5 linked regions of the Homo sapiens genome follow. The protein of the gene in region 3 interacts with the protein of the main gene of each other region in a pairwise test. Each region holds a gene or a part of one and is shown on either strand. Other genes may lie near its edges. The genes, in order: MNAT1, TRIM74, RNF32, RPP30 and GCDH.

Region 1 (3,524 bases), on a different chromosome or scaffold from region 3:
GATCATTTGAGCCCAGGAGTTTATGATTGTGCCACTGATATTACATGGGTTAAAAAATTTTTTTAAAGTAAATGAACGGAAAAATGCACACTATCAAATAGTAAGCACAAGAAATCTGACAGTGCCAAATTATTATCAGACAGAATCTTCAGGAAAAAGCATATTACAAGAGACAAAGAGGGCCATTTCATAATGATAAAAGGAGAAATGTATTAGGAAGGCATAACAATCCCAAATATGTACCCAACAAGAGAGTTCCAAAATGCATAAAGTATGACAAAACTTACAAGAAAAACTGACAAATCTATAATCATAGTGGAGTAATTCATAAGATGAGTAGATAAAATAAATTAATAAAGATACAGAAGATCTGGTAATGCTATCAACCAAGATGGGTATGGTAATATGTACCACGTTTATAACTTATACTACACTACACCCAACAACCACAGAATGTATATTCTTTTCAAATGTACACTGATTGTTCACAAAGACAGGCCATATGCTGGACCATAAGCAAGCTTTCAGAAAACTTCAAAAGACTGAAATTTTATAGAGTATATCCTCTTATCACAACAGAAAATTATAAAATAATATATCTAGAATGTTCCTGTTCTAAATCTTCCACCTAAAATAAGTGCCTTTTCCTAATTTTCTACCCAGAGGGGGCTCTGTTTCCCAATTTGCACAAAGGTACTGAATAAGATCAGTATATTAAATGAGTTAACACCACTTATTATTCTTATCAACAAATAAATTCAAACTTAATCTGATAAAACTTTTAAACATAACTAACAATTTAGAGGAAATACTGAGAACAGAAGAACATATTTAACAATATCACAGAGATGCAATAAGCAAAATTCGGACTCTTCAGGATAAACTATCCAGTAACATCAGTAAATGAGAGAGAAATAGGAGAACAGAAAAAAAAGGGAAAAAAAGAAAGAGAAAGATGTTAAGTAACTATCACAAAACATTGCCTTTATATATCAAGATGGTAGGTACTTGATTTTGCTTATCTTGTACTTTGCGTCTCGTGCGTGATGAAAAAAGTAGATTTAGCACATAAAATTTCCAGAGACAGGTTTTGCCAAGAATGGTTGGGATAGAAATTAATTTTTTTTTAAGATGGAGTCTTGCTCTGTAGCCTAGGCTGGAGTGCAGTGGTGTGATCTCGGCTCACTGCAACCTCTGCCTCCCAGGTTCAAGTGATTCTCCTGCCTTAGCCTCCCCAAGTACCTGGGATTACATGCCCATGCCACCACACCCAGCTAATTATTGTATTTTTAGTAGAGACGGGGTTTCACTATGTTGGCCAGGATGGTCTCGAACTCCTGACCTCAGGTGATCCACCCGCCTCAGCCTCCCAAAGTGCTGGGATTACAGGCGTAAGCCACTGCACCCAGACAGAAATTAAATTATTAAAGGCTGTAGTTAAATGAGAATTAGATACCACTGCCTCCATCTAATTCTATATGCCTTCAGAATGGAAGGCCCATTTCTTGAAATAGGTGGCCTGATAAAGAAAAAAAATTACCATTTTCTGTAATTGAGACAATGTTCATCCTTGAACAGAAAAAATTAAAAAAAGAACATGAAATCCAATCTTCTTCTATATGCATACAATCAATTCATTTGTGCATTTGCTAGATTAAATTGATAAGTAGGGAAATATGCTTCTTCAATTGCTAGCAGCTAAGAGACAAAGGTATTTAATAATGTTTCACCTCTTTTCTCTCCTCTCTGCTCCTGTATTTTCTCCCATAAGTAAAACTCCTAGTTAATTTTTCCATAACCCTATAGTTCCTCTTTTATGAAGCACTACTCCTACTCACTTTATCACTTGCCTCCAAAAAGTCTTTGCTACTTGAGGACATGAAAAAAAAAAAAATAAGTTAATAAAATCCTGCGGAAGCCAGCCTTCAAGATAGCCCAATGATATTCACACTCTTGGTATTCACACTCTTGTGTGTACTCTCCCACATTATAACACTACAAAACACCAGAGGTGATGGTATATCACTTCTATCATTAGGTTTTAAAAGGCTCTACAGCTTCCAGTTCCCTTCCTCCCTCCCTTTCTCTCTTCTCCCATCCATCTCTCCAATCTTCCTTACCTCCGCTCATATCACTAGTTCTGGGAGAAGCCACGTCATAAGTAGCCCTATGGAAGAGTCCATGGGGAGGAACTGAAGCCTCCTGACAAGAGCCACATGAGTGACCTTGGAAACAGATACTCCAGGCCCAGTCAAATCTAGACTGCAGTCCTAGCCAACAACTTGATTACAACATCCTAAGACCGAGCCAGAATCATTCAGCAAAATAATACCTGCTCTTCTCAGACTAACAAGCATATTATAAAAATGCCTATATTCAATCCCATGAAATATATGCCATAAAAACTCAACAAACTATCAAAAAATTTTTCATTAAGAGCCAAAATGAGGCTGGACACGGTGGCTCACGCCTGTAATCTCAGCACTTTGGGATGCCAAAGCGGGTGGATCACCTGAGGTCGGGAGTTCAAGACCAGCCTGACCAACATGGAGAAACCCCATCTCTACTAAAACTACAAAATTAGCCAGAGGTAGTGGCGCATGTCTGTAATCCCAGCTACTCGGAAGGCTGAGACAGGAGAACTGCTTGAACCCGGGAGGCAGAGGTTGTGGTGAGCTATCACGCCATTGCACTCCAGCCTGGGCAACAAGAGCAAAACTCCATCTCAGGCCGGGCGCAGTGGCTCACACCTGTAATCCCAGCACTTTGGGAGGATCGAGGCGGCTGGATCACGAAGTCAGTAGTTCGAGACCAGCCTGGCCAACATAGTGAAACCCCGTCTCTACTAAAAATACAAAAATTAGCCGGGCATGGTGGCATGCGACTGTAGTCCCAGCTACTCGGGAGTCTGAGGCAGGAGAATCACTTGAACCTGGGAGGTGGAGGTTGCAGTGAGCCTAGATCATGCCACGGCACTCCAGCTTGTGTGACAGAGCAAAACTTCGTCTCAAAAAAAAAAAAAAAAAAAATCCAAGATGTTTTTCTTATCAGAAAAGCATCTGATAAGATGCTTTTAAACATCTTTTAAAATGCAAGATTTTAAAAAATAATATTAGCCAATATAGGCAAAGTTGTGTGGCAATAGGAATCTCCATACAGTTGTTGGTAACATAATTGACAAGATCTTTTTTTTTTTTTTTTTGTAAGATAGGGTTTCCCTCCTGGCTAACACGCTGAAACCCCGTCTCTACTAAAAATACAAAAAAATTAGCCGGGCGTGGTAGCGGGCGCCTGTAGTCCCAGCTACTCGGGAGGCTGAGGCAGGACAATGGCGTGAACCCGGGAGGCGGAGCTTGCAGTGAGCCGAGATTGCGCCACTGCACTCTAGCCTGGGCGACAGAGCGAGACTCCTTCTCAAAAAAAAAAAAAAAGGATAGGGTTTCCCTATGTTGTCCAAGTTGGTCTCGAACCCTCCCTCCTCAGCCTCCCAAGTAGCTAGGATTACAGGTAGGAACAACCATGCC
Region 2 (3,524 bases), about 84 Mb from region 3:
GTGAGCACCACTGGCCCTAGAATTAGCCTCACCTGGCGCCGGCCTTTTTGTGATGGCTCCTGATTAAATACCCACTAATTCTGGATCTGCTGGTGACCACAGAGTTCACCTGATGGGTCCCCTACAGGCAGCATTCAATCCAGGAAGTGCCAGCATCACATGGTGACTTCTGGTAGCTGTAACATTTAGTGACTGTCTCCATGTCATGCACAGGGGTGACATCGAGACCCTCTTATGCCTGGGAAGTTCCTGCTGTCAATGCAGAATATTCTCTTTTTTTTTTTTTTTTTTTGAGACGGAGTCTCGCTCTGTCGCCCAGGCTGGAGTGCAGTGGGCGATCTCGGCTCACTGCAAGCTCCGCCTCCCAGGTTCACGCCATTCTCCTGCCTCAGCCTCCCGAGTAGCTGGGACTACAGGCGCCCGCTACCACGCCCGGCTAATTTTTTGTATTTTTAGTAGAGACAGGGTTTCACTGTGTTAGCCAGGATGGTTTCGATCTCCTGACCTCGTGATCCGCCCGCCTCAGCCTCCCAGAGTGTTGGGATTACAGGCGTGAGCCACCGCGCCCGGCCCAGAATATTCTTTGAAGAAAAAAAAAACATTAGAGATGGGATTTCACTGTGTTGCCCAGTCTGGTCTCAAATTCCTAGCCTCAAGTGATCCTCCCATCTTGGCCTCCTAAAGTGCTGGGATTACAGGCATGAGCCACTGTGCCCAGCCTAGAATATTCTTTTTTTTTTTTCTTGAGATGGAGTCTTGCTCTGTTGCCCAGGCTGGAGTGCTGTGGCGCAATCTCGGCTCACTGCAACCTCCTCCTCCCAAGTTCATGCCATTCTCCTGACTCAGCCTCCGGAGTAGCTGGGACTACAGGTGCCCGCCACCATGCCCGGCTAATTTTTTTTGTATTTTTAGTAGAGACAGGGTTTCACTGTGTTAGCCAGGATGGTCTCGATCTCCTGACCTCGTGATCAGCCAGCCTCGGCCTCCCAAAGTGCTGGGATTACAGGCGTGAGCCACCGCGCCCGGCCCTTAGAATATTCTTGAATTATCTTATTTTTTATTTTTATTTTTTGAGACAGAGTCTCACTGTGACACCCAGGCTGGAGTGCAATGGCATGATCTCAGCTCACTGCAACATCAATCTCCCAGGTTCAAGCGATTCTCGTGCCTCAGCCTCCCAAGTAGCTGGGACTACAGGTGTGTGCCACCACACCTGGCTAATTTTTGTATTTTCAATAGAAATGGGGTTTCACCATGTTGGCCAGGCTAGTCTCAAACTCCTGACCTCAAGTGAAGTCCCACCTCAGTCTCCCAAAGTGCTGGAATTACAGGCGTGAGCTACTGCGCCCAGACTATTCTTGAACAATTTAACCTGTTTTGGACTCAAGGGTACCTGGGTGGCTCTGGTTCCCGCCCTGGTTTCCCTGGGAGTGCTTGTGGCCATTGGGATACTCCCAAGAAGGTGATCCAAGGAGCTGAGAAGGGGAGGGATCAGCTGCTCATGGGGCCATGGCCTGTTGCCTCCAGGAGGAGCTCGCAGCCCTCTTCTCTGAGCTGAAGCAGGAGCAGAAGAAGGTGGATGAGCTCATCGCCAAACTGGTGAAAAACCGGACCCGAATCGTCGTGAGTGCCCCTTCCCTCTGCCCCTGCCTGGGACCGGCCACCTTCACTTTCCTGTAGAGCTCAGTTCTCATTGGTCCTTTACAGAAAACCATGCCTTCCATATAAAGCCAGAACTCAAAGCATTCCGGGGCGGGGTGGGGAAAGCGCAAATCCTCTCAGGGGAATTCAACCCAGTTGTCGTTAGGACTGGCTCCAAGTTGGCTTTTGCCCTCTGTGTCCTTGAGACTGAGATAACCCAGGACTTGAGTCTCGGGGGTAAACAGCTGAAAGCATGGGCGTGACTCCTCCGCCCCTGTGCCACCTGTGTCTGCTTGACCTTGCCAGCCTGTCATGGTGCCCTCCCAGTACCTGGGTGCGCAGGCGTGGAGAGGCTGGCAGCCCTGGGCCCTGGCTGATCTCCTGAACTGAGAGGCACATGGGGCTGGGACGCATAGTGCCCCGGCCCTGGAGGTGGCTGTGAAACAGAAACAGGAGCCGAGCAAGATCCAGAAGCACTTGGCCTCCCTCATTTACCCTCCTCACCCTTGCGCGGCAGGCGGTATCAGCCCTGCCTGGTGGAGGCGGAGCTCAGGGTTCTGCAGGGAGTTCTGGCTCCCTCACAGCAAAGCCCGCTCGCCCAGGGCCTTCCTGCTTTCCTTCAGTTGTGGAACTCTGGGATATGCACATTTAATAGCTGAAATAGGCAAAGTGGGGTGTGGTGGCGTGCATCTGTAATCCCAGCAACTCGGGAGGCTGAGGCGGGAGGATTGCTTGAGGCTGGGAGGTCAAGGCTACAGTGAGCTATGATCGTGCCACTGCGCTCCAGCCTGGGCAACAGAGTGAGACCCTGTCTGTTAAAAAAAAAATTAAAAATTAAAACAGGCCAAAGCAGAGCCTCTCCATTTGAAATGGGAGCTGGGGCCACCCTCCCCACGGCCACCGCCAGGGCTCCCCATGCATGGGGTGAACTCCCTGCCCGGCGCCAGGCCATGCAGCCTCCCCTGAGACTCAGGTCCCAGGACCAACCCGGTCAGGAAGGCCCTGGGGACACCGAGGCCAGCCAGACAGAGCCTGGCAGCTCGGCTGTGACTCTGCAGTGAGCAGCCCTCCCTGTCCCAGAATGAGTCGGATGTCTTCAGCTGGGTGATCCGCCGCGAGTTCCAGGAGCTGCGCCACCCGGTGGACGAGGAGAAGGCCCGCTGCCTGGAGGGGATAGGGGGTCACACCCGTGGCCTGGTGGCCTCCCTGGACATGCAGCTGGAGCAGGCCCAGGGAACCCGGGAGCGGCTGGCCCAAGCCGAGTGTGTGCTGGAACAGTTCGGAAATGAGGACCACCATGAGTTCATCTGGGTGAGTGGACAGGGAGGCGTCCCATCCCCATACCCGCCAGGGCCTTCCCCTTCCCAACAGTGCCCTGGCTTCCCACCTTCTAGCCTTAACCTCCCTCTCTCTTGCCTTCCAGAAGTTCCACTCCATGGCCTCCAGGTAATAACCTTGGAGAGAGCTCAGCCAGGGTCTGGTGGCTGCGGGCACGGGCATCTCAGCTCCACTGGTTCCTCCATTCAGCTTAACCAGCGCCTCCCAAGCAGCTGCCTATAGCTGGCTCTATAACTGAGCCTGGGGAAGATAGAGGAAAGTCACGTCCCTGCCTTCAAGGGTCTCGCAGACAGGTGGGGAGGCAGATGGTGAACTGTGGGTACCTAGAACAGCAGAAGTTCACTCAAGCTACAGAAATACTAGAGGAGGGTAGCTCATGCCTGCAATCCCAGTACTTTGGGAGGCCAAGGCAGGAGTATTGCTGGAGGCCGGGAGTTCGAGACCAGCCTGGCCAATGTAGTAACACCCCCGTCTCTACAAAAAATACAAAAATAAAAAAATTAGTTGGGCATGGTGGCATGCGCCTATAGTCCCTGCTACTCATA
Region 3 (3,524 bases):
TATGCTAGATGAAAAGAGTCTTTTCTAAAGGCATCTGAGGATGATGATGACTTTCTTTACTAAGATAGGGTCCGTGTATTATTTGTCTCACATTTATTATTAAGCTCTTCCAGTTTTGAGCTGTAAAATATTCTACTCATTGATTACATCTTTAAAAAAGAACAATAAAATAGATGCAACCCCTAAACATTAATATATAATATATACAAGGAAATTCTCCACTTGTACCAAACATGTAAATCAAGATGATCATTTTGCCTTGTCAACCAGGACAAATTACCACCTAGTGTGCTCTTGCAGTGTTTTTCTTTTTCTTTCTTTTTTTTTTGGATGGAGTTTGACTCTTGTCGCCCAGGCTGGAGTGCAATGGCACGATCTTGGCTCACTGCAACCTCTGCCTCCCGGGTGCAAGCTATTCTCCTGCCTCAGCCTCCTGAGTAGCTGGGATTACAGGCGTGCGCCACCACGCCCGGCTAATATTGTATTTTTAGTAGAGAAGGGGTTTCTCCATGTTGGTCAGGCTGGTCTCGAACTCCCGACCTCACGTGATGCCCCCGCCTCAGCCTCCCAAAGTGCTGGGATTACAGGCGTGAGCCACCGCGCCCGGCCCTTGCAATGTTTTTCTATAGCCTTCAGAACGTTGTAAAAGCCACGGTGGCAATCACGCAATGTGCCGTGTGCACTGGAGCAGAATCTGAGATCCAGGCTCTCTCCCCGCTCTGAGCTGCACACGTTCTGCTAGGATTGTGGTGTTTTGTCTGTTCCCTCGTTATCTCCCCTGACTAACAAAGCACAGGCAGAGAGCAGGCACCCAGGAAGCTATTTGACTCCATTAATTTCATGTATCCATTAAAATGTATTTGAGAGTGTAATCCGTGTGGAATGTTCTTGGCAGTAACGCATAAAGCAGTGTTCTTTAACCCCCTTCAGATGAATGAACTCAATTTCCCAATTGATTTTTCTCAAATAATTTTTTTCTCCACTGGTCTGAAATACCTTCTTTAGTACACTAAAATTTCCTGTATGCTGAGATGTGTGACTTTCTACTGTTTCATTGTTTGTCTATTATTCCCCAAGAATCTTAGTTGCCAAATTTATATATTTTGATATCTAACAAGGCTGTTCTATCTCATCAATCTGTCTTTTAAAAAAATTATTAGCTCTTCATACCTCTTTAGATAAACTTTAGAGTTAACCTGTAAAGTCCTAAATGCACAGCCAATCCTACTCCTTTGGGAGTTAGAAACTACATTAAATTTATATAAAGTAAGTGGACATTTTTACTCATTCCAGTGTAAAATGTCTGTCATTTTATTCAAGCCTTTTATTCCATCAGAAAAAATTTTTTCTTATCAGTGTGGTACATTCCTTGTTTGGCTTATTTTAATATAAATATAATGTAAAATTGTAATATACATGTGTGGATTTATATAATATGCATAACATATACACATATGTGCACACACATATATTTTGTTTTCATGTGTTATTGGCAAGGATTGGCTCAAGTGTGATGACAGTAAGTAACCTAGTTTTCTTTATGGTTTTTTACTCTCTAAAACAATGTGTTTTTAGTATTTGACACATAGTTTTTAATGTGACAAGGAAATTTCATTCTAGTTCTAGTGTCTTTCATTATTAAGAATGGCTGTTAAGGCCGGGTGCAGTGGCTCACGCCTGTAATCCCAGCACTTTGGGAGGCCGAGGCTGGTGGATCACGAGATCAGGAGATCGAGACCATCCTGGCTAACATGGTGAAACCTCATCTCTACAATTAGCCGGGCATGGTGGTGGGCGCCTGTAGTCCCAGCTACTTGGGAGGCTGAGGCAGGAGAATGGCCTGAACCTGGGAGGCGGAGGTTGCAGTGTGCCGAGATCGCGCCACTGCACTCCAGCCTGGGTGACAGAGCGAGACTGTGCCTCAAAAAAAAAAAAAAAAAAGAATGGCTGTTAAATTTTATTTAATATCTTTTCAGTAAAAACGGAGATGCTCATATAATTTTTTTCAGTCATTTCATACTTTAAATTTCTTTCCACGTTTGCTATTTTTACAGGAAGTAATTTCAATTATATTTTCACTTCTATTGCATAAAGTTGTATACAACAATTTTGTAATTTTAAAATGATTTCTATTTATATGGGTACACCTCCCTTTCTGTGTATCTACAGAAAACCAACGTCCCAGGTCAAGCAGTCAGGCAGAGACAGAGAGAAAGCACACGCAAGAGAGTGAGACTGTGCCTGTGTACACACGCAATTCACTTTACTGAGTCCACTGATTCAAATGCTCAGCTCATCTGGAAATACCCACAGGCACACCCAGCAATAATGTTTAACCAGATAACCTGAGCATCCCTTAGCCCAGTCAAGTTGACACATAAATTAACCATCACACCTGGGTAATGTGAAATTCAATAACCTAGTTCAGTAACCTTTTGGATTCCATTAAATATGCAGGGCATTCTAAAATTGTAGATTAACATTTCTCAGAGGATTCCCATCGCTCACAGAATGAGTTTATTAAGTTGGAAAGGTAGAAAAAAAGCATCAAATGGTGAGGTCATTTGGTAAATGATTAAGAAGTGGTCTTTATTATAAAGGACAGCTGTTGAGTTCTACCCATACAGGCATACAAGCACATAGGGCATGGACCCATATAGGCACCTACTACCTACTGCTAATACACTATTTTACAGTAAGTTCAATCTTCATTTATTTAACATGAGATCTGAGTTTACAGATTTCAAGTGTTTATGGCCAAATGAGTTAAGTGAGCAAGAGTTACATGATAGGATCCCTATTCATGTAACAAATTATGAGTATAACCTCACTATGATCTGAGTGTGTGTGCGTATATGTATACATCTGTTCCTCCCCACCCCCACACTTGAAACTTGAATGAGGTAAGATTACAGTTCAGCAGATAACACGGTCACTTGTATTATGTTTAAGGTGGCAGTTATTGATAATGCAGACTGCTGATATCTACAACCCATCAGTGACCCATAACATTAATGTAGTAGGCCCAGCACTTTGGAAACGAAGTGGAATAAAAATGAACACAGTGTGGTGCCTGCAGTGAAAGCAGATTTTGCTTTGCGAAAGTTACGTTTCTGTTAACTGTATACATGTGGTGGGTCATTGCTGTAAGCTAAAAATAAAATCCTGGCCAGGCCATGGTGGCTCTCACCTGTAATCCCAGCACTTTGGGAGGCCAAGGCAGGCAGATCACCTGAAGCTGGGAGTTCAGGACCTGCCTGGCCAACATGGGGAATCCCTGTGTCTACTAAAAAATACAAAAATTAGCTGGGCATGATGGCGGGTGCCTGTAATCCCAGCTACTCAAGAGGTTGAGATAGGAGAATTGCTTGAACTCGGGAAACGATGGTTGCAGTGAGCCAAGATCGTGCCACTGCACTCCAGCCTGGGCAGCTGAGCGAGACTCCGTCTCAAAAAAAAAAAAAAATCCTAAGGCCCCCAGCAACAGAACGAACCCCCTCTTGGCCAAGGGGGCCCTAGGAAAA
Region 4 (3,524 bases), on a different chromosome or scaffold from region 3:
CTATAATACGACTTCAAATTCAAAATTTCCTGAAAGACAATGTCAACAACTTTTTACTCAGAAAAGGATACAGATTTGCCACGTCATATGGCCCTCTTATTTCTAAAGGCTGAAATAAAATGAACAAAGAGTAGATATGAGAAAATTATTTATAACATTTCAATGACTTATAGCAAATTAATAGAAAATTTAAGTATCCAAAAATAAAAAAATTACATAAATTTAAGTCCTTATAATTTTGATGGGTTTCATAGCTTTTGAAAATATAAGAGAAGCTTGAAAGGCATTTTGTAACAGTATAAAAGAAAAACTGATTATATAAACAAAAGTTGAAGCCTAAAGAAAGTGGGGATAAATTTTACTATTTAGCAATTACAATGAGCAAATGCAGTTAAAATAGAAAAAAATGCAACAAATATTCATTTACTATTTTAATTTATCCCCTAGAAACTGAAAAGTTTTATAACCTGAAAGATGAAAACAAAGTACTTCATGCTAGACTTACCCTTTCTGCAGCACTAGATATAATTACATTCTACAAAATAGAAAGTGACTAATATTAATCTTAGATAAATGTAAAAAAAGGAGTTTCATAATATAAATAGCCAGTAATCATATTTTAACATTTAAGGCTCAAATACCAACTTCTTTTAAAGATAAGGTAAATAATTAAGGTGAAAAAAATGAAAAGACTTCATGTCAAACTAAAGGCAATCTGTAATAAAAAACAAAATATGTTTTCCTAACAGATCTTAGTAAAGGTGAATTAAGTTTAAAAAACAAGATGAAAAGGTCACATATCTTAATTCAACTCAGTGAGGACCATTGTTATTCTAGACTTTTCTTTCACAGTATGTAAATTGCAAATTTTTATCAAAAGATATGGCTTCCAACACATCTTTTTCTCCCTTACATTATTCTTCCCTTGGTATTTTTCTTTCCCTTAAAATTTGCAGAGCTCACTGAAATGGCAGAATTTGTTCCTATGCTATGAGAACATTCTGCTTTAAGGAAAAGGAGTCAGTTTGACAATTCCAGTGTACTACTAATAATAAACTGCCAGATGCGAAAAACATCCTAAAATTATAGAACCATACCTTTCCTTTGCAGATTTGCATCAAATTGAGGGCACTGGAAATTGTATACCTTCTCATTGTGGAGTCTTTGATAGCAGGGCTATAGACAAGTTCAAAAGCCAGGCCTCGGTCAATCGCCTTCACAGGAAATAAAGAGAACTGTCAGAGATAAGCATGCACTGGCCTACTTCATTTTCACTGATTCTCTCTTCACATCCCTCCTCACTCCCTACTACTGACCCCTTACATGTCAAGGTACAGCTTTATGAAAGACAGATCAACACTCAAATGGCACCACCCACAAGGAGAAGAAAATAAATCCGTGGCTCTACTTGATTAAGAGAGTTTAACTTGGCTGTGGGGAAGCTGACTTTACATAAACAGGAATTATGAAGAGGCTAAGAAGAACAAAGTCCCAATGGCGTGAGAGAGGGGCTACTACTCCATGAACTATCAAAAGGAAAACAGAAATGTACTCCCTACATTTACAGTAAACTGTATACAAACATAGTAAACCAAGTAATCTGACCTATGAATGCACAAAGAGACAAAGAAATGAAGAGCTGAAAAAAGCCCAAAGAACCAAGGGCAGGAAGGTCTTTCAGGTAAGTAATTTATTCTCTATATGTTGAAGAGAGAATAACAGCCATAGTTAATTGAGTGCTGACTATATGCTAAGAGAGTCTTATATATAATATTTAATCCTTACTACAATACCTTTATAAAGCATTACTGCAAAGCCTGCAAATTGCCCAGATATCTGTCCTCTCCTTTTTCTTTAGTAATAAAGCCCCTGATTTTTCACTGGGCTTATAGCCGCACAGCAAAAAAGATGGAAGTGCCCTTGAAGATTTTGCCCAGCTCACCATACAAGCTTGGCTTTTTTCATGAGAAACAGAAACTTCTTTATTTAATGTACTCTTACTACAGAGGGATCCACAGGTAAGTAGATGAGTGGAAATGATATTGAAATTAACCACCATACTGTTCAGCTTTCCTAATGAGCACCTAAATGTCTGCATCCATTCACAAAAGATGTTTTAAGCCCACTACGTGCAAAAGCTGAGATGGTTTCTCCCTTCTAAAAGCTTACATTTTAGTGGGGGAGATGATCAATAACCACACAAAAATACAAAACTTCAACTGTGTTAAGTGCTATCAAGGAGAAGTTTAGGGTTGAGGAAGAAATTAAGCAGTTAAATAGTAGAGGAAGGTGCACTTTCAGAGGGAGGTCAGAGCATGCAAAAGTCTTCAAGGTTGCAGCATGGCAGCACGTAGGGAAGGTCAAATGCTGGAGAAAAATAATGAGGAAGACAGGCTAAAGAGGATGGGAAGGGCCAACTGTGCAGGCCTTTAGAGCTGGTGATGAGGATTATTCCTAATGGAGAAAACATCTGAAGGATTTTCAGCATAGAGATGATAATCAGACTCTCAATTGCAAAAGTCACTTGAGTGGCAGTACTCTTTCAAAAGAATAAAGAAAGAATGGTAGGCATGTTCTAGGCAGTATGGTCCAAGTCTCTGCTTGGCAAATGAGTTTCGATTGCCCAGAGTATAAGTTGGGACTGGCCCAGCTGTGACTACTGGGGTTTACTCCTGAGCATTTACGGGGAATGGAGAAACTTGTCTTTTTCTAGAACTGGCAGTCCATCTTGATTTAATTCAGTTGTACTTGAAGGCCCCTTCTGCTTTTCCCTCCCGAACACAGATTTCCTTAATTCTTCCTCCGGCTTCAAGGCTCCCAGATTTTATTTTAGATTTTCCTATATGTCTGATTCTAGTTTGGTTAGAATTTAAATGCTATTTTCCACACTGCAACCTTTCCCTCTCTCATTTTTTGACTTTTCCCCATCTCTAATTCTTTCACCTGTGTTGATTATTTCTGGGAATGACATTTGTTAAGATAGTATTTCTGTCCTAGTTGAACGTGTATCTCATTGGCTCTGCCAAGCTTGCACACTTCTTGAGAGCTAGACTGCCTTTTACATAAAAGGTGTATAATATATTTATATTTTGAGTGAATAAATAGCAGCTTATGGAGAAGATGTCCTGTGATAACGTTGTTCATTATAGATGATCCATCATCAAAGGAACCTCGGTGCACCTGGCTAACCAAAAACCACAGATAAGTAAAAACATCCCTTTTAGCCATATTATCAGCCATCTCCTTGGCTATATATTTTACCAAAACTACTAATTAGCTGAAGAGGCTGACCTGTATTTCTTTTCCTTATCCTTCTAGTTGTGGAACGATAATACAAGGCAACAGGATGATGAAGAGGGGAAATAAATGAAAGAGGTGAATGATATATAGAGTTGGATGCTTAGATCTCGAAATATTCCTAATTGACTGAATCTAAATTTCTAGACCCTTGTGGGTACCAAATCAAAATAAAAACAACTTTTGCGGGGGGAGGGGAGAAAAAAAGGATATTATCAGCATAATTA
Region 5 (3,170 bases), on a different chromosome or scaffold from region 3:
CGTGGAGACTGTGTACAAAGACCTGTGTCTCCAGCCTGAGGTATGAGTAAACTCACAGGGGGGGCGCTGCCTGAGGAAGAGGACAGGGATGGCCCAGCCAAGAGTAAATGTGAACAGAAACCAGGCACCCAGCCCTGACCCCGCCAGGCCACAGTCCCTGCAAAGCCCTTGGTGCACTCACCATCTTGTTTGTGATCCCCTATAACATGGTGTGTCTGAGCTGAGAAGCCAAACCGTTGTCATGTCCCACTGTTGTATGAGCAGCTCTGTGGTGACAGAAAGGACAAAGTCCCTTGCACCCCTGCCACTCAGAAATCATCCCCTCTGCCCACAGCCCTGGCACAGACCGGCACTGCTAACCTGGGTTTCTTTTTTACAGCAGAGCCTAAGACTCAGATGGGGGCCAGACCACTCTAGGGGAAAGTCCCCACCACGTCCCGGCAACTCACAGCCCCCAGACGTGTTCGTTTCTTCTGTGGCTGAAACTACTTCTCAGGTGGTTACCAGTAAACCGGCCTGACACCTTGGGGTCAGATGTGCAGGTCTTTATTTTCCTCTCCCTCACTCTGCTCCAACACCCAGCATAAGGCACTACCCCCAGATGGGAGGGAGGGAGGGCGCACTGTGAACTCAGTGTGAGGGGGTCAGCTGCAGCAGACGGAGTTGCTTCCATGTCACTCTCCTCTCAAGAGAAGCTGCTATTTCAGGGTAAATGGAGTCTGCTCTCATCCATGGTTAAAAGTGGATTGAGACGCTCTACAGAGAATTCCATCTTCTTTTTAAGGAACACATCTGAACGACTTCAGAAGGGAAATTTTGATATTTAAAAATCAGTGTCTCTCACTTCCCACTCCATCCGCCACCTCCCTTTCTAAGCTCAGAGCACAGCGCTCCTACGGTCCAGCCAGGCATCTCTCCAGAAAGGGGCTTGAGAGTTTCGGGCCCCTGATGGAGCGGCTCACTTGCTGGCCGTGAACGCCTGGATTCCCGTGATAGCTCTCCCAAGGATCAGGGCGTGAATGTCATGTGTACCTGGACAAGATTAATACAGAGTCGGTTTGGAGTTTTCATAGCTCACAACTTCCCTTTAAAATCAATTTTCATGTATCCCCAGGCCACTGCTTCAGAAGTACAGACCAACAGAGATGGTGAATGCTGACAGCTGCCGGGAGACTCACGCCTTAGTGACAGTCTCCAGGAGAAGACTGTGAGGCCACCATTTGGGCCACACTGAGAAATTGTTTTTCATGGTTCTATAATGCATCTTGGCAGAAAAAAACAAAAACCCAAAGCTCCTTGTGCTGAACTCCCAAAATGTAGCAAGTCCAGCCCCTGCCATAGGCCCAGGCTTCGTGCTCCCCACCCTTGGCAAGTTCTCCCCACCCCCAGCCCCACAGTTTATTAAATGTTTGATTTTCAACCTGGCCACGCTTCCTTGCCACAGAGGCTGAAAGCACCCCTGAGCTCCAAGGAAACACAGCAAGCCCTTTCTTACCCTCGGGAGGGATAGGAGGGACAGCACATCGGAAGAGCAGTCACTTGCCTCAGCTGACCTCTGCCCATCTGAAGCCGCCTCTCCCAGAGAATCCCACACCCCATGCCCTGGTGTCTCATCCTTTGCTCCTCCCCAGCTCCTTGAAGCAGAAGGCAGATTGTAGCCTCCTTTTTAGAGCCAATTCTGTTTACTTCCTAAAGTACAAACCTATTTTTTTTAAATATAGATAGGGTCTCACTCTGTCACCCAGGCTGGAGTGCAGTGGGGTGATCATAGCTCATCATAACTTCTAACTCCTGGGCTCAAGCAATCCTCCTGCCTTAGCCTCCCAAAGCGCTGGGATTACAGGTGTGAGCCACTGCGCCGAGCCCCTAAAGCACCAAATCTGACTCATCCCTTCTCTGCATAAAACCATCTCATGGCGCCCGCTGCTTGTCCTCAGGGTCATTCTCACATTTGTAGGATCCCCCCACCCCCCAGATGCCAGATAGAGACAAGATCTGGGGTTGCAAGGTGCGCAGGGAAGGCACCCCTCCTGCATTTGCTGTTCTCTCTGTCTGGAAGCATCTCTGCCCGGGGGGTCCTCATACCTCCCTCTATTTCTACATAGCGCATGCTGGGTTTGCACTTTTTTTTTTTTTTTAAGTATCTTTTTCCACATCTGTCTTCCCACCAAGCAAGGGGTTCTGGACCCCCATGTAAATCACCATCAGTTACAGGGTGCAAACACCGTCATCTGAAGATGACTTTTGTCTCTTAACAAAATGGAGCGTTGATTCCTGCGTGTAGCTTCGCTCACTCCCTTGCGTCCACCAGCCTGCTAGGAGTCGGGCCTCACCCCTGGGCTGCCTTCGGAGCTTACCTGTCTCAGGAACATCCCTCCTCCCGAGCATGTGGGAGAAAGAGCTGGGAGCCCCTCGCAAGGCCTGATGGGGCCTCTGTGTGCTGCATGAAGCACTTCACTTCCACAGTCCCCATGTGAGTAACTCCAGATGAGGGACAGAGGGGTAAGGCTCGCCCCAGGTCACACTGTCACTTAGTGATAGGTGGAGTTGGACTCAGACCTGTCCCCGTCCCACCTCCCTGTACCCCCTCCCCAGACACTGAGGCCTCAGTGAGCCCTCTGAGGTCCAGCTCCTACCTTCGTAGGTGTTCACGGCCTCCAGGTTCATGGCGTGCCGGATCACGTGATACTCGTCAGAAATCCCATTCCCCCCCAGCATGTCTCGGGCCTGGCGGGCGATGTCCAGGGCTTTCCCACAGTTATTCCTCTTCAGCAGAGAAACCATCTCGGGGGCAGCCCTGGGAGTGGCACATGAGGGTAACAAGGACTGGGGATCCTGGCATCCCGATGCTCCAAGCAAACCTAGCCCGGGGTGGGGATTCCCTGATGCAGCCAAGCTCCCAATGAGGGACCAGTGGGGCTGTCCTCAGCCCAGCCCATCAAGGACAAGAGGGACAGCAGAAGGTTCAGGTCCCCAGGGCCACCAGGCAGGAAGGACCTTTCTCTCCAGGAAGGACACAAGGTCCTCCAGCCACCGCTGCCATCCCCCCGCCCCCACCACACAGCCCCTACTTGTCCTGGTCCTTCAAGCGGCCGAGCTGCAGGCAGGCGTGAAGGCCCAGGGTAATCTCAGTGAGCATGTCTGCCAGCTTCTTCTGAATCAGCTGGTTC

The links.
Region 1: the proteins of RNF32 (region 3) and MNAT1 interact in a two-hybrid assay, tested with the Homo sapiens proteins (one large-scale study listed by BioGRID and IntAct).
Region 2: the proteins of RNF32 (region 3) and TRIM74 interact in a two-hybrid assay, tested with the Homo sapiens proteins (one large-scale study listed by BioGRID and IntAct).
Region 4: the proteins of RNF32 (region 3) and RPP30 interact in a two-hybrid assay, tested with the Homo sapiens proteins (one study listed by BioGRID).
Region 5: the proteins of RNF32 (region 3) and GCDH interact in a two-hybrid assay, tested with the Homo sapiens proteins (one study listed by BioGRID and IntAct).

Annotation. Positions count from the first base shown.
Region 1 is NC_000014.9:60,737,759-60,741,282, reverse strand, and holds part of MNAT1 (CDK-activating kinase assembly factor MAT1), read right to left. Parts: intron 1-3,524.
Region 2 is NC_000007.14:72,959,449-72,962,972, reverse strand, and holds the end of TRIM74 (tripartite motif-containing protein 74), read left to right. Parts: intron 1-1,527; coding exon 1,528-1,623; intron 1,624-2,721; coding exon 2,722-2,952; intron 2,953-3,064; coding exon 3,065-3,091; 3' UTR 3,092-3,488; downstream 3,489-3,524.
Region 3 is NC_000007.14:156,661,265-156,664,788, reverse strand, and holds part of RNF32 (RING finger protein 32), read right to left. Parts: intron 1-3,524. UniProt on the Homo sapiens protein: May play a role in sperm formation.
Region 4 is NC_000010.11:90,892,465-90,895,988, reverse strand, and holds part of RPP30 (ribonuclease P protein subunit p30), read right to left. Parts: intron 1,215-3,524; coding exon 1,098-1,214; intron 536-1,097; coding exon 506-535; intron 110-505; coding exon 72-109; intron 1-71. UniProt on the Homo sapiens protein: Component of ribonuclease P, a ribonucleoprotein complex that generates mature tRNA molecules by cleaving their 5'-ends. Also a component of the MRP ribonuclease complex, which cleaves pre-rRNA sequences.
Region 5 is NC_000019.10:12,897,330-12,900,499, reverse strand, and holds the end of GCDH (glutaryl-CoA dehydrogenase, mitochondrial isoform a precursor), read right to left. Parts: coding exon 3,072-3,170; intron 2,798-3,071; coding exon 2,637-2,797; intron 1,715-2,636; exon of another isoform or gene 1,160-1,714; coding exon of another isoform or gene 1,115-1,159; intron 1,033-1,114; coding exon 959-1,032; 3' UTR 801-958; coding exon of another isoform or gene 757-800; 3' UTR 501-756; downstream 1-500. Other genes in the region: SYCE2 (synaptonemal complex central element protein 2), read left to right, coding at 1-40, 380-496, 1,115-1,159. UniProt on the Homo sapiens protein: Catalyzes the oxidative decarboxylation of glutaryl-CoA to crotonyl-CoA and CO(2) in the degradative pathway of L-lysine, L-hydroxylysine, and L-tryptophan metabolism. It uses electron transfer flavoprotein as its electron acceptor. Isoform Short is inactive.